Linked DNA regions of Homo sapiens: region 1 is linked to region 2. The links come from fine-mapping of genetic effects on gene expression. A gene starts in region 2. The other region holds a variant in brackets. All regions are shown on one strand. Distances are between the middles of the regions.

The links. PIP is the estimated chance that this variant, and not a neighbour inherited with it, causes the effect.
Region 1: its variant is fine-mapped to the expression of VPREB1 in whole blood (TOPMed, PIP 0.96).

The regions. Positions count from the first base shown.
Region 1 is chr22:22,334,383-22,343,080 of GRCh38, forward strand. It overlaps IGL and the pseudogene ASH2LP3. Among named protein-coding and RNA genes, the nearest start is that of VPREB1, 94 kb to the left of the region's middle. The variant A/C (reference allele first, on the strand shown) is at 3,484.
Region 2 is chr22:22,241,437-22,250,134 of GRCh38, forward strand. VPREB1 (V-set pre-B cell surrogate light chain 1) reads left to right here and starts at 3,350. Exons shown (of 2, transcript NM_007128.4): 1 at 3,350-3,423; 2 at 3,510-4,079. The coding sequence starts at 3,378. The coding sequence ends at 3,901. It also overlaps IGL.

The sequences.
Region 1 (8,698 bases), 93 kb after region 2:
AGACTCCTCTCTAACTCATTTTGTGAAGCTAGCATCATCCTGATATCAAAATCCGGCAGAGACACAACAAAAACAGAAAATTCCGGGCCAATATCTTTGATGAACATTGATGCGAAAATCCTCAATAAAATACTGGCAAACTGAATCCAGCAGCACATCAAAAAACTTACCCACCACAATCAAGTCGGCTTCATCGCTGGGATGCAAGTCTGGTTCAACATACACAAATCAATAAATGTAATCCATCGCATAAACAGAACTAAAGACAAAAACCACATGATTATCTCAATAGATGCAGAAAAGCCCTTTGATAAAATTCAACATCCCTTCATGCTAAAACCTCTCAATAAACTAAGTGTTGATGGAACATATCTCAAAATAATAAGAGGAATTTATGAAAAACCCATAGCCAACATCATACTGAATGGGCAAAAGCTGGAAGCATTCACTTTGAAAACCACCACAAGACAAGGATGCCCTCTCTGAACACTTCTGTTCAACATAGCATTGGAAGTTCTAGCCAGGGCAATCAGGCAAGAGAAATAAAGCGTATTTGAATAGGAAGAGAGGAAGTCAAATTGTCTCTGTTTGCAGACGATATGACTGTATAGTTAGAAAACCCAATCATCTCAGCCCAAAAACTCCTTAAGCTGATAAGCAACTCCAGCAAAGTCCCAGGATACAAAATCAATGTGCAAAAATCGCAAGCATTCCTACACACCAGAAATAGACAAGCAGAGAGCCAAATCATGAGTGAACCCTCATTCACAATTGCTACAAAGAAAATAAAATGCCTAGGAGTACAACTTACAGGGACTTGAAGGACCTCTTCAAGGAGAACTATACACTACTGCTGAAGGAAATAAGAAAGGACACAAAGGAATGAAAAAACATTCCATTCTCATGGATAGGAAGAATCAATATCGTGAAAATGGCCATATTGCCCAAAGTAATCTATAGATTCAATGCTATTCCCATGAAGACACCACTGACTTTTTCTGCAGAATAGAAAAAAGCTACTTTAAATTTCATATGGAACCAAGAAAGAACCTGGATAACCAAGACAATTCTAAACAAAAAGAACAAAGCTGGAGGCATCACACCACCTGACTTCAAATTACACTACCAGGCAACAGTAACCAAAACAGCATGGTACTGGTACCAAAGCAGATAAATAGATCAATGGTACAGAGCAGAGACCTGAGAAATAACACCACACATCTACAACCATCTGATCTTTGACAAACTTGACAAAAACAAGCAATGGGGAAAGGATTCCCTATTTGATAAGTGGTGCTGGGAAAACTGGTAGCCATAGACAGAAAACAGAAACTGGACCGCTTCCTTACACCGTATACAAAAATTAACTCAAAACGGATTAAAGACTTAAATGTAAAACCCAAAACCATAAAAACCCTGGAAGAAAACCTAGGCAATTCCATTCAGGACACAGGTGTGGGCAAATACTTTATGATGAAAATACCAAAAGCGATGGCAACAAAAGCTAAATTGAAAATGGGATCTAATCAAACTAAAGAACTTCGGCAGAGTAAAAGAAACAATCATCAGAGTAAACAGGCAACCTACAGAATGGGAGAAAATTTTTGCAAGCTACCCATTTGACAAAGGTCTAATATTTAGAATCTACAAGGAACTTAAACAAATTTACAAGAAATAAACAAACAACCCCATCAAAAAATGGACTAAGGATATGAACAAACACTTCTCAAAAGAAGACATGTATGTGGCCAACAAACATATGAAAAACAGCGCATCATCACTGGTCATTAGAGAAATGCAAATCAAAACCACAGTGAGGTACCATCTCACACCAGTTAGAATGGCAATTATTAAACAGTCGGGAAACAACAGATGTTGGTGAGGCTGCGGAGAAATTGGAATGCTTTTACACTGTCAGTGGGAATGTAAATTAGTTCAACCATTGTGGAAGACAGTGTGGCAATTCCTCAAGGATCTAGAACCAGAAATACCATTTGAGACCAGTAATCCCATTCCTGGGTATATACCCAAAGGATTATAAATCATTCTACCATAAAGACACATGGACACATATGTTTATTGCAGCACTCTATGCAGTAGCAACGACTTGGAACCAATCCAAATGGCCATCAATGACAGACTGAATATAGAAAATGTGGCATATATACACTGTGGAATACTATGCAGCCATAAAAAAGAATGAGTTCATGTTCTTTGCAGGGACATAGATGAAGCTGGAAGCCATCATTCTCAGCAAAGTAACACTGAAACAGAAAATCAAACACTGCATGTTCATACTCATAAGTGGGAGTTGAAGAATGAGAACACGTGGACACAGGGAGGGAAACATCGTATACCAGGGCCTGTCCGGGGGGGCTGGGGGTCAAGGGGAGGGAGAGCATTAGGATGAATACCTCATGCATACCGGGATTAAAACCTAGATGACAGGTTGATAGGTGTAGTAAACCACCATGTCACATATATACCTCTGTAACAAACCTGCGGGTTCTGCACACATGTATCCCAGAACTTAAAGTAAAATAAACAAATAAATAAATAAATAAATAAATAAATAAAATAAGTCCCACCAAAACAAAAACTGTTAGAACTATTAAATACATTTGGTAATATTTCAGAATACAAAATCAACACATAAAACCATCTAATGGACAGCCATGATGGCTCATACCTGTAATCCCAGCTCTTGGGGAAGCTGAGGTGAAAGGATTGGTTAGGATCAAGAGAGTTCAATACCAGCGTGGGAAATGAAGTGAGACCCTGTCTCAAAAACAAACAAACAAACGAACAAGCAAACAAACAGGGTTCTTATATTTCTATACTTAATCAACCAAACAGGAAACAAGAAGACAGGACACAACCCAAAATGAAATTAAGAAAACAATTCAATTTACAATAGCATCAGAAAGAATAAAATACTTAAGAATCAAGAAGGGGACTCTTCTATACTGAAAACTATAAAACATTGCTAAAAGAAATTAAAGAATACACAAATAAATGGAAAGAAACATTGCTAAAAGAAATTAAAGAATACACAAATAAATGGAAAGAAAACATTTGTTCATGAATTGAAAAACTTGATATTGTTAAGAAATCAATACAAACCAAAAGAAATCTACAGATTCATTTCAATCTCTATTAAAATTCCAATAATTTTTTTTGCAAAAGTAGAAAAAATTAATTCTAAAATTTACATAGACTATCACAGGACTCCAAATAGCCAAAATGATCTTCTAAAAGAAGAACAGTGTTGGAGATTTCACACTTCCTGATTTCAAAACATACTACAGAGCTACACCAATCAAAGCAGAGTGGTACAGATAGACAGACAAATAGATAGACAGACAAATAGAATAGAATTGAGCACCCAGAAAGAATCTCTTAGTTATATGATCAAATGATTTTAAATAAGGGTAGCAAGACCATTGAGTGGGGAAAGGACAGACTCCATAAAAAATGTTTTTG[A/C]GAAAACTGGATATCCACATGCAATGTGGAAATGGATAAAAGACCCAAATGGAAAAGCCATAACTGTAAAAATCTTAATAGAAAACACTAGGAAGAAGTTTAACAACATTGGGTTTGGAAATGATTTCTTGTATTTGACGCCAAAAGCACAAGAAAAAAAAAAGAAAAAGAATATAGATAAATTGGATTTCATCAAATTGTAAAATTTATGTGCAACAAAGGACTCTATCAACAGAGGGAAAATGCAAATCATGGAGTCAGGAAATATTTTGCAAACATTGTATCTGGTAAGGTGTCCAGGATATAGAAAGAACTCCTACAACTCAACAGGAATAAAAAAATAGAAACAATCTGAATAAAACATGGGCCCAAGACTTGAATAGATATTTCTCCGAAGAAGATCAATAAATGGCCAATAAGCACATGAAAAGATGTTTAGCATCACTAATCATTAGAGAAATCCAAATCAAACCACAATAATACACAACTTCACACCCAGTAGGATGGCGTTACCAAAATAATAGAAAATAACAAGTTCTGGCAAAGATGAGTAGAAATTGTGGAGAAACTATAAAATGATGCATCCACTGTGGAAGCCTTATGGCAGTTCCTCAAAAAATTAAACATAGAATTACCATTTTAACAGAATTTTCACTTCTGGGTATGTGCCTAAAAGAATTCAGAGCAGGGTCTCAAAGAGAAATTTGTACACCCTTGTTCATAGCAGCATTGTTCACAATAGCTAAAAGGTAGAGGCAGCCCAAGTGTCCATCTAATGGATAAATGGGATATAGTATACACACACAAGGGAATAGTATTCAGCCTTAAAGAGAGTGTTCTGGCCCATGCTATGGCACAGATAAACCTGAAAGACATCATGCCAGCAGAAATAAGCTGGCTTCAAAAGAACAAAAATTGTTTCATTACCCTTATATGAGGTACCTAGAGTAGTAAAAGCTACCGTGACAAGAAGTATAATGAAGTTTCCCAGGTCCTTGGGGTGGAGAGTAGGGGGAGAATGGACAGTTATTTGTTTTTTGTTTAGTTTAGTTTTGCTTTGTTTTGTTTTTGAGACTGAGTCTCCCTCTGTCACCCAGTCTGGAGTGCAGTGGCACAATCTTGGCTCACTGCAACCTCTGCCTCCTGGGTTCAAGCGATTCTCATGCCTCAGCCTCCCAAGTAGCTGGGATTACAGGCATGCACCACCATGTTCAGCTAACTTTTGGTATTTTTTAGTAGAGATGGGGTTTTACCATTTTGCTCAGGCTAATCTTGAACTCCTGGGCTCCAGTGATCCACCGACCTTGGCCTCTCAAAGTGCTGAAATCAAGGAAGTGAGCCACCACACCGAGCCGGGCAGTTCTTGTTTAATGGTTGCGAAGTTTTAGTTTGGGAAGATGAAAAATTTCTGAAGATGAATGGTAGCAGTGTGATTGTACAAGTTGATTTACTTAGTGACACTGAAGTGTACACATGAAATGGTGAAGGTAACAAATTTTATGTTTGAATATTTTACCACAGTCAAAAAGAGGAAGATTTATATTTGGCACCATTGCTCTACTTCCAAGAACAGTAGAAAGATACAGTAGTAGGAGAGTGTGCACAAGTATCCAGGACGTCTTTCATTTTTTGCCAGCCCTGCAGCATCCTAACAATCCAAGAGAGCAGGAGGTGCCTCATTACAGGGGACTCAGAATAATGTGAAGAAATCTGGGGCGGGGTGGGGGCATAATGATAGCACACAGGTGCCGGACCCAGTCCAGGAGTGGCCACAAATGCAAGGGCTGCAGAAGAGGGGGAGATGAAGCTGGTGGCAGTGGTAGCAGCTGCTTCAGCTGGAAAGGGGCATCTGTTGCTTTCCAAAGTGGTTCACAGTTGAAATATCTGGCATAGATACTTCATCCTGCCTACCTTTCATGACTAACTATATTTTCATTGCAATATATGCAGTCATAGTGAGAATACCTATTTCCTCCAGATACAAGCAAACGTGAAGGAAATGTGCTTTAGTGCTTTGGCCAACTTGACATGGCAGTCACAAAAAGAGGATGAATATCCAAAGACAACCTTTTCCAGAGATAAGGTTATTATACCATTTATTGTAAATACTGGAAGTGCACAACAATCATTCAGACACCTGGGAAAATGACTTGACCAAATACAATTGTGAAAACAATGAGTAAAGAAAGTGATATATTCTTGGTAAAAGAACCACTGGATCTAGTGAGTAAAGAACCAAAAGGAGATGACCCTAGATTGGAACTTTTAGACCAGGACCTTGGTAACATTGGTCCTGTTTATGCAACAAAAACAAAGCAATACCTTGTCTACCAGTGAGAATCTGAATGAGGGAACAGCAACAGGAAGCAGCAGAAAAAAGGAAAAGAAGCTCAGTGCAAACAGCTGAATGGGGAGATCACAGGGACCACCAAGAAGGTCCAGGGTTTTCTGCTCAGTGCCTTCCCTCTCATACACCTTAGAGCACCCACTGAACAAAGATAACTACCAGTATATTCTAGCTGAGCCTGATCCCCACGCCCTTGGTCCTCAGAAGCTTGAACTTGACTGCTGGGCAAAATTCCTTATTCCTGGAGACCTCTACAGAGGCTGCTTGTATGAACAGGTTTTGTTAGCCTGACATAATTGAGCTCCCCAGTTAAAAGTCTCCAATGACCTGCTGGCTGACTGTGGTTGAACAGAAGGTCTACTCTATGGTACGGGATTCTCATGGGTTACCTTGATATCACCATGGATGAGATGCCACCAGACACTGCTGCCAGACTGGGTTGGTCCCAGTCTTTAGATAACTGTCAAGCTTCCTTAGTTTATGATAAGTTTAACTATTCTTGGGAGAATTAAAGGGAATGAAGTTCCACCAGTCCACTGGCAAACACTACTCTTCTAGCTATAGACAAGGAGACATCCTGGGATTTTATATGAATCTTCCTGAAGAAACAAAGACAGTCAAGTCATTGCCTGATACTTACAAAGATAAGGCCTTGATAAAGTTTAAGAATTATTTGTGTTTTGAGGAAAAAGACTTTGTGACTGAAGCAGAGAAGAGCCTAAAAGAGACTTCCCACAGTGAGATAAGATTTTATAAAAATGGTGTTAGTCAAGGCATGGCTTACAAAGATATTTTCAAGGGGCTTTACTTTCCAGCAATCTTACCAGAAAACAACTGCATAATTTCCATGAACATTGGACTGTGCTTCAAGTATCCTCCAAAGGATCTCACTTACTGCCCTATGAGTGACATGGGCTGGGATGCTCTGGTAGAGCACACTCTGGCTGGTGTCTTGGTGCTAGAAATGGATTCAATCACTGGACAAGAAAGTCCTTCAGGGGCAAACATAAGGACACTGAGGGTCATCTTATTCTACCTGCCTTCTCTCCTTACTTGTATCCTAGGCCAGCCTATGCTAGCGCAACTGTCCACAGATCTCTCTCTCTCTTTCTGTCTCTCTCTCGTGTGTGTGTATGTGTGTGTGTGTGTGCATGTGTGTATCAAATGATCAAACATCTTCATTCAAAAGTCCAAGCCCTGCAGCATCATGAGACAGTGCTACCACACATGAAGAAAATGTTCAAAGGGCACCAAATAGAGATCGCATGATCCAAAGTTATTTCTGATCCCAGAAAAGAATGGCACACAATCAATATGAATAGTATTAGATATCAAAATTATAGTACAATCTCATTTGTTTTTACCATAGATTCAAACTCTCTTTAGCATATTGGAAAGCAGAATCCATGTTCTACTGATGCAATTCCCCTTGACCATCATGAAAGAATTGGACTGAAAGCAGGACATTTCTGAAGTCTCTGGAGGATACGTAACATGACTGTTGGAGGGAATGCACATAGGAAGAGGTAGTGAATTATGTGTCAAGTGCCCCAACAAAAGGCTGTCAGTGTTTGTCTCTGACACATTGTTGGGGAGAAAGGTGGAGTCACAGGACACACTGCCATGGGACCCACGAGACTTGATCCTACATCCCACAGCGGGCAGCCTGCATCAACGTGGTCATGCAGGGATAGAAACACAGCCACAGAAAGCTTTCACCTGCCCAAGCAGCATCTCCCAAGAGCCAGCATGGGTGCTGTCTCTGCTCTGCTTCTTCCTGGACTGTGTCTCAGAGCCCTGAGTTCTCCCTCACCCAGTTTCCCAATCCCCCTCTTCTCCACTGGTTACCAGGGGTTAGGGGAGTGGGGAGGGGAAATAAACGTTTAAAGGGTACAAACTTTTCACTTGGGATGATGAGAAAGTTATGGAAATTCATAATGGTGATGACTGTATCACTTTTTTTTCAGAGGTGGTAACTTGCTCTGTTGCCCAGGCTGGAGTGCAGTGGTACAATGATAGCTCACTGCATCCTTGAACTCTTGGGTCTAGGCAAGCCTCCTGCCTCAGACTCCTGAGTAGCTGGGACTACAGGTGCAAGCCACCATGCCAGGCAATTCTATCACATTGTGAATATACTTAACACCACTGAATTTTACAGTTAAAAGTGATTTAAATGGCAAATTTTATGTTGTGTGTATTCTATGACAATTAAAAATACACTTGTTCAAATGTCAAAATATATATGATGTTATATTCATAAAATTTTCCTTTTCACACTTATATATTTATCCTATTCTAACTCATTCTCATCAATTAAAAAAAGTACTGTAATTACTGGTCATTATGTACTAAATTTTCCATAATTCACATTGAAGCCTTAACCCCCAATATTACTGTATTTGGAGACAGAGCATTACAGAGGGTAATTAAGATGAAATGAGATCATAAGGACCGGCATCCTTATAAGAGGAGATTAGAAAATGGACAACATAAAATGAGATGAGGACAGAGTGAGAAGGTGGTCATCTACAAGTGTGGACACATCTTCAGTTTGTGTGGAGTAACAGTTGAAGGGCTCGCCCATCCTATAATGAAAGTTGGAACAGGTGCCTTGGGCGGGCTCCAGGATTAACTGATCTAGTCACTGCATCCCACTGTGGGACCCCAGAGGGAAAGAAGCACTGTGGAGATTCCTGAGACATTAGAAATGGAGCCTGAGAAATTTCCAGGACACCCACATGGGCTCCAGGTGAAGCAGGGGCCCAGAAGGCCTTGTCTGATCCCTGAGTGTGACGCAGCACCTGGCCACTAGGGGGAGGCAAACTCTGTGAATCCTAAGGGACCTGAGCTCTTGCTCTGAGCCCTGCC
Region 2 (8,698 bases):
CTGTCTCAAAAAACGAACAAACAAAAAAACAAAACAAAACAAAACAAAAACCTAAACCAAAACCAAAACGCAGCATAGTCCATGAGAGAGGAAGAGCAGGGCAGGCCTACTCACCTGGGGCTGTCGGGGAGGCTGCCCAGGAAGGGACTCTGAAGTGAGCACCTGGAGGAAGGAGGTTAGTTCTGAGGGACTGGAATTCATCCTGGCATTGGGATCACGGGCAAAGGTCCTGTGGTGACAAGGAGACTGGTGCGAGCCTGGCTTAGCACCATGTGAGAGCAGAGGGGTGGAAAGGCACTAGGTAAGCATGCCTTCGGATGTGAAATGAGGGAGACGGGGACTGGGGGACCCTGACATGAGGGAGGAGGAAAGGAGATGGGACGAATGGGTGACCAGAGGGACCACTAGACCACCGAGGGTGAGAGCTTGCTAATATCAGAGCCATGTGTAGGAGAATGAAGTGCAATCTTGGATAGACCTCCAGTGCAGGTGGTCCAGCCATCAATGACCATAACCACATGCATGATTGTAGGTGGAACCAGAAGAACCACCCAGGCAACTCACAGAACTGGGGAACTAATCAAGTCTTGTTTTAAATGACTACATTACGGGTGGTTTGCCACGTAGCAGTGGATCGCTGAAACAGTTTAAAATATCTATTCAGCCGGGCGTGCGGTGGGTAGCTCACACCTGTAATCCCAGCATTTTAGGAAGCTGAGGCAGGAGGATCTCTCGAACGCAGGAATTTGAGACCAGCCTTGAGCAAAATGGCAAGACCCTGTCTCCACAAAAAGTAAAAAAAATTAGCTGGGTGTGGTAGCATGTGCTTGTAGTCCCAGCTACTTGGGAGGCTGGGACAGGAGAATTGTTTGAGCCCAGGAGTTCGAGGCTGCAGTGAGCTGTGACTGCACCGCTACACTCCAGCCTGGACAACAGAGTGAAACCTTGTCTCTAAAAAAAAAAAAAAATCTACAAACCAGGCAGGAGCACTGAATAGCTCCTGTCTCCCCTGAGACCCTTGTAGACCTTGAGGTCTGTTACAGAGCTCACCAACCTTCTCTTGGTCTAGAATTATCTAAAAAGAGTTGAGTGCAGCCAGAAAGGACTGAATACATGGTGTTCTTCAATCCCATCAAACTGCTGTGCCCTGCAGATGATCCCTGAGTCCAGGTGTTGGTGGGTTGAGGACAAGGCTGAGGGAACAGAGGTGGGAAGAGTGGCCCAGGGCCAGGAGAATGCAGAGTTCAGAGTGCATGACCTGCATCTAACTCTAGATGCTCCAGGGGTCTGAGACCATCTCCAGCAGGGTCTGGAAGGCCCAGTCATTCCCCAGCACGCACAGTCACCACTGGATACTATCTTGCTCTGTGAGTGATGCAAAGGTCCTGGGTCAGTGAAGCCTGTGAAAGAAAGTTGGGACCAGAGTGTCTCTACGGTTGAGGGCTGGGCTTATTTGCTCTCTAAGTATAATTGTAAGAGCAAGTAGAAACACCTATCCTCTCTGAGCTTAAAAGGATCAAAAAGCTCTGACAGTGTCAGTGGTAGGGCTAGTTCAGGGACTGCAGTAGTGCTGGTGCCCACAGGTGGAACCTTCTCCTGCCCTGATTCCCAAGGACTGGTGCTCTCGGAGGGGTCTGGGAGGTATATTTCTCTTTCACAAATACGTGCACAACACATGAATGAGCTACTGGATGAGGGAATAAATGAATGAATGAGTGAAAAAAGCTTCCTTTCTCCTCTCCAGGAGTCAGCAGTCACTGGTTAGTTCCCCACTGCCCACCAGCCTGTGCAGAGGAGGGAGGAGCAACAGGTCATAGATGTGGTTGCAGCTGTTACTGGACAGAGTGGTCAAGACATCCTGTGTCTGCAGAGGCCCTCCCCAGCCCTCACCTGGGCAGTGGAGCTGTTGGCCAGAGAGGCAGTGGGAAGAAGGGTGGGGCTCCCAGAGTCGACCCTGCGGGCTGAAACTGGTGCAGCCTGCACCTCACCAGGCAGAGAATGGATGTGGGGCAGCTTGACACCGAGCAGGGGCTCATCTGAGCCTCAGGGGTGGTTGCTCTATCAAAGTGTTTGCAAGTAAACAGTCCCAGTGCACACCCAGCTGCTCAGTGCCACCTCGTGCACCCAGGGACACTTCAGCCTTGATCACAGGCCTGCACAGGTTCCAGGGGAGGAGACACTCCAGCTTTTTGAGGGAGGGTGAGCATGTGGGATCAGAGACTTTAAGTCCAAATTTCCCCTTAATTTTTTTTTAAATCTTGCAGGTAGTATGCAAACATACATTTAATGTATTATTTTTATTCTCATTTTTTTTTTGAGGCAGGGTCTCCCTCTGTTGGCCAGGCTGGAGGGCAGTGGTGAGATCTTGGCTTGCTGCAGCCTCAACTCAACCTCCCAAGCTCAAGTGATTTTCCCACCTCAGCCTCCCAAGTAGTTGGGACTGCAGGTGCCTGTCCGCCATGACCAGCTAATTTTTAAATTTTTTTTGTAGAGATGGGGTTTTGCCATGTTGCTCAGGCTAGACTCGAACTCCTGAGCTCAAGTGATCCTCCCACCTTGGCCTCCCAAAGTGCTGGGATTATAGGTGTGAGACACTGCATCCGGCTCCCAAATTTCCCCTTTTTATAAGGACACCAGTTGTACTGACCGGGGCCCCACCTCTATGACCTCATCTAACCTTCATTAACTCCTTAAAGGCCCTATCTCCAAATACAGGCACACTGGGGGTTAGGGCTTCAACCTATGGATTTGGGGGATGCAATTCAGTCTATCACAGTGCCAAGCTGCACCTGCTCGGTGAGCCAGAACAGGGGTGGGGAAGGCACCAGGCCCTGGTGCTTCTTTCCCATGCCTGAGTCACTCTACTTGGTTCTAGTAGGGAGAGGAGCATGGGCCGAAGGCAGTGCTGCAACATGGAAGGGGCAGAACATCCCAACCCGCTCTGGGCCCCCAGTGTCTTCTGCTGTACAAAGCAGGTGTTTTCACCCCCCGAGGATGTGTCCTCCCTTCCTGGCTCACCAAGCATTTAAATGTAGACAGAAAATTTATTTATCTGGGGTGCGGTTTCCTCAGGGGGAAGTTGAGGTCACGACCCCTGAGGTACCTTAACCCAAAGGCCTCCAGGGCACTGGCCCCAGAGTCTCCAGCAGGTGCTTCCTCCCTGAATGCTTCCATATGGCAAGATCAGAGCCACAAATGCTGCCCCGACGCTGTTCCGGTAACCGACGTTGCAGACCCAAGAAAGTCTGGGATGGTAGTGGCCAGGAACGGGGTGTGCCACGGCCCCACCTCTCAGAGCAGGGAGGAGGATGCTGGGCCAGCCCTTGGGGACCCCAGGCACCGTGGCCACAGGAGTCAGAGCTCTGCATGTCTGCACCATGTCCTGGGCTCCTGTCCTGCTCATGCTGTTTGTCTACTGCACAGGTGAGGGAACCCCCAGATCCCAAAGACTCCTGCCCCTTCCTTCATCCTGCCCTGCCCCCACGGCCCACATGCATCTGTGTCACCAGGTTGTGGTCCTCAGCCGGTGCTGCATCAGCCGCCGGCCATGTCCTCGGCCCTTGGAACCACAATCCGCCTCACCTGCACCCTGAGGAACGACCATGACATCGGTGTGTACAGCGTCTACTGGTACCAGCAGAGGCCGGGCCACCCTCCCAGGTTCCTGCTGAGATATTTCTCACAATCAGACAAGAGCCAGGGCCCCCAGGTCCCCCCTCGCTTCTCTGGATCCAAAGATGTGGCCAGGAACAGGGGGTATTTGAGCATCTCTGAGCTGCAGCCTGAGGACGAGGCTATGTATTACTGTGCTATGGGGGCCCGCAGCTCGGAGAAGGAGGAGAGGGAGAGGGAGTGGGAGGAAGAAATGGAACCCACTGCAGCCAGGACACGTGTCCCTTGAACTGAAGACAGCAGAGGCACGCATCCCCTTGGAGAGACTGTCATGGAAGAGGGTGGAGTCGCCGCCCGAAGCGCCGAGGAGGCTGAGCCACTCAGCATCTCCTGGTCCTGCAGTGTTGCTGTAAATCCCCATTGGAGACTGCATTAGGGAATTAAAGCTGCTTGTCACTTTTTGCTGAGTTTGGTCTGACTGTTGTGCGACTTCGTAGTACCAGCCTTGGGCAAAGGCCCGGGGCCCCGGGAGACTGGCAGATCACTGTGGTGAGCACTCACCTGAGTCCTTACTTTTGTGGGCCATGGGAGGCAAGGGGTTGACCGAAGCACCCTGGAGGGGCATCCATGCCCAGGACAGGACCCTCTGGTGTCATCTGATTCTGCCCAGCGGTTACAGGGCAAACAAGCTTAGAAAGCACCTGGTCTGGGCCTCCAGGGAGAACAGGAGCCAGGTAATAGGCCTAGAGTGGGTTCTCCACCTTGGTCCTATCGACGTTTTGGGCTGGACAGTTCTTGGTTGTGGGGCTGTCCTGCGGATTGTTGAATGGTGAGTGGTTATCTGTGGCCTCTACCCACCAGATGCCCCTTCCCAGTTGTGACAAACAAAAATGTCTCCAGACATTGCCAAATGTCCCCAGGTGGTAAACTCACACTGATTGTGAACCACTGGTCTAGATGAGCAAGTAAATGCATTTACTTATTTGTACAAGAGAGTGGCAGGTGTCGGCAAACATGTTCTTTTTTTCCTTTTTTTAGGGATAAAGTCTTGCTCTGTGGTCCAGGCTGGAGTGCAGTGGTGCAATCATAGCTCACCGCAGCTTCAAACTCCCAGGCTCAAGTGATTGTCCTGTCTCAGCCTCCTGAGCAGCTGAGACTACAGGCGTGCATCACCATGCTTGGCTATTTATTTAGTTTTATTTTTGGAGAGATGAATGTCTCACTATGTTGCTCAAGCTGATCTCAAACTCCTGAGCTCGAGTGATCCCCCTGCTTGGGCCTCCTAAAGTGCTGGGATTAGAGGCGTGAGCCACTGCACCCAGCCCATTTTCTATAAAGAGCCAGGTGGTAAATATTTTTGGCTTTGTGGGCTATGCGATCTCTGTCACAACTGTTCAATTCTGTCCTAGTAGCAAGAAAGCAGCCACAGACAAACATGTCAACAAAGAGGCATGGCTGTGTTCTTATAAAGCTGTATTTACAGAAACAGATGGGGCTACACTGGGCTGGGTATGGCGCCCAGGCTGTAGTTTGCTGAGCCCTGCTCGGGAGCACTCCAGCTCCTGTCTCCAGGTTTTAAGCAAGCCATGCTTGGTGGGATAATCAGAGTCCCCCCTCAACTTATCTTGCCTGTGACCCCAGGCAGAAGCCTCTGGACCCATGGAGATACCTAGAGGCATGAAGGACGTGGTCTCACTGAGACTGTGTTGGACTGTCTGGGTGAAGTAGCAATGGGGAGCTCCCTGCAGCCCCGGCCCACAGCAAGGCCCCCTGAGCCCGTGGGTGGTGGGTCTGAGTGTGCCTTGCGGAGAGGGACTCTCTACATTGGGTGTTCACACAACCTGTAGACATGCCTCACTCAGAGAGGTGCCGGGCAAACCATCTCCCTTGTAACCCCAACTTGCCTGGGAACGTGCATTCACCCCAGCTAAAAAGATCCTGAGGCATCTCCCCAGAGAGGTGGACACATGTCAGTATCAGCGTTCCATGTGTGGTCATGAGTCCCTCTCTTGTTAAACAGTGGTCTCCAGCACTTTGGGAGGCCGAGGCGGGTGGATCACCTGAGGTCAGGAGTTAGAGACCAGCCTACCCAACATGGTGAAATCTCATCTCTACTAAAAATACAAAAATTAGCTGGGTGTGTTGGCACATGCCCGTAATCCCAGCTACTTGGGAGGCTGAGGCAGGAGAATTGCTTGAACCCAGGAGGCAGAGGTTGCAGTGAGCCGAGATCATGCCACTGCACTCCAGCCTGGGTGACAGAGCGAGACTCCATCTCACAAAAAAAAAAAAAAAAAAAAAAAGAGACAGTGATCTCAGCTTATGCCATACTCTATGCACTGGGTTCTTCCTGCATCAGGCTTTTACCCCTGGGCCAGGCCCACATTTTAAAACATTATTATTTACTTGTTTATTATTTTATTTTAGAGATAGGATCTTGCTATGCTGCCCAGGCTGGACTGCTGTGGCTATTCACAGGTTCAATTCATGATGCTCTACAGCCTTGAACTCCTGGGCTCCAGCGATCCTCCTGTCTCAGCCTGCTGAGTGGCTGAACTACACGTGTGAGTCACTGCACCTGGCCATGGCCCACAGTTTTAAAGACCAGCTAGATGGTTCCAGAGGAACTCTGTCTTCTGCTTGTAACCCGTCCCTCTCTTGCCTCCATCCTTCATGATTCTGGGATTCCATGCTATGAGAAGAGATCTAGAAAGCCGGGAGCTGAGTTGGACTCCTGTATCATCCTCATGCCCCCACCCCACCAGCTCAATGGAAAATGAGACCTGGAACTCAGGCTTGAGGCCAGACTGAGTGTGAGTCTTAGCTCTGGAGGAGTCACTTAAAATCTAAGCCAACATTTCCAATGTTGCATGTAAAGGGGATAATCATAGAACTGATTAACTTATATAAAAAGTTTTTATCTGGCCAGGCGTGGTGGCTCATGCCTGTAATCCCAGCACTTTGGGAGGCCGAGGCGGGCAGATCACCTAAGGTCAGGAGTTTGAGGCCATCCTGGGCAACATGGTGAAACCCCGTCTCTACCAAAAATACAAAAATTAGCTGGGCATGGTGGCGGGTGCCTCTGATCCCAGCTACTTGGGAGGCTAAGGCAGAAGAATTGCTTGAACCTGGGAGGCGGAGGTTGTAGTGAACCGAAATCGCACCACATCACTCCAGCCTGGGTGACAGAGCAAGACTGTCTCTCAAAAACAAACAAACAAACAAACAAAAAGGTTTTATCCATCATGAGTGCTCAACAAAATAATAGTATCATGATTTCCCCATCAGTCACCTGCCTGGCCTTCCCTCTTGTCAAATCCTTTCCTTTAGTCTGAGTCATTTCTCACCTTGACCATTATCTGGTCTCCTTCCCATCCATCCTCCTGCTGCATGCAGTCTATACCCACCACTCCTCATCTTTGTTGCTCCTAGATCCAGCCTTGCATGCATTCCTCCTCTCTAACCCTTTATTGTCTCCCACACTCTAAAGAACATATGCAAGCCACATCTGTAATTTCCAATTTTCTAGTGGCTACATTATTTTTAAACAGTAAAAACAAATAGGTGAAATGATTTTTTAATGATATATTCTATTTAACATAATAAATCCCCAATATTACCAATTCAACCTATAATCAATATAAAAATTAGTTACTAGATAGTTTAAACTTGTTTTTCTTTTGTATTCACACTTCAAAATCTGGTATGTATTTTATATTCATGTCTTGGATAATTTGCTCAAGTGGATAATCTGGTCAGCCAAGTGGTCAAGAGCTACATATGCCTTGTGAAGAGACCACTTTGGTTGAGGGGATGCAATTCAGCCTCCTTCCCATGACACAGCCTTTGAAGGCTGGCTCAGGCTTGGTCCCAAGTCCCATTTCTTGTGCACCCTCTCTCCCTGTTTCTGCCATGTTAAGCCAACTGCAACTGATCAAACACCCGAGTCTCTTGGTTGCTTCTAAACCTTTGCCCAAGCTGTTTACTGCCAGGACTTCCTGTCCCTTTGTTGTGGCCTCCATCTGGCTGCACTGACTCGGGGCTCCACAACTGTCTCAAATCTCACTCCTTGGGCAAGACTTCCCCGAGCTCTTCATGCAGTTATTAACTTCCTCCACTGTGCAAACAGCATGTTTTCCTAACTATATTTAGCTTCTACTGCACAGTTATAAATTTATTTAGCAAAGCTCCCTCCCCTACTAATCTGCAGATTCTCAGTGGGCAGGATCTACTCAACCCATTGATGTGCCTGATAAACACTTGGCAATTAGACAGTTGAATGAACAAATGAATGAATGTGTAACTGAATGAATTTTCGGGTTCCAAGGACCCTGACATTCTGGGATCCCATTAGGTGGCTGGGGTCACCACCTTAGAGAATTGTGATTCCCTAAGAAGGGAGAACCAGCCCAGACCTTCTCGATCATATTAGTGACTGGCCACATTTCCTCTCCTTTCCGATTCTCTCTCTCCCCCACACCCTTACTGCATGACAGTGATGAGAAAATCCACTTGATCAACCAAACTACAACTTTCGGCCTCATCCCTATCCCTCCCTTGCCTTCTGACCAGGGCCACAGTCACCCTGTGGGTTCTTCCTTTTGAGTGTCTCTCACTCCCTTCCTCCTCCATATCTCTGAGACCAGCCTCCAGCCCTGCTGGCCTGCTCTGCTGCCTTCTGGCTCTTTGTTGAACCCAAGACCAGGGTTTATATATGTTAAATATAAATATATTTTTCCATATGAAATGTAAACATATTTTAAACATTAAATATAAATATACATCTTAGATATGGCCTGTGTTGGAATGTGTAATAGATTGAGTATATAATGTCTATTCAATATAAAATTTATATTTATATATGCAGTAATGATTCAGGTTGATTGTAGTTAAGAAAAACAAGCTCCAAATTCGAGAGAAATATGTAAGAAGAGAGACAGGAAGAAAAAATAATGAGGCAGGTAAATGCAACAGACAATTCGAGACCCACAAGTGCAGAGCAGGCTTCCCAGACCCGGATAATGTCTCCTGGGCTGATAGGAAGCCCTCAACCCCCCAAGTCCTTCTCAGCCATAAACCGCCTGAG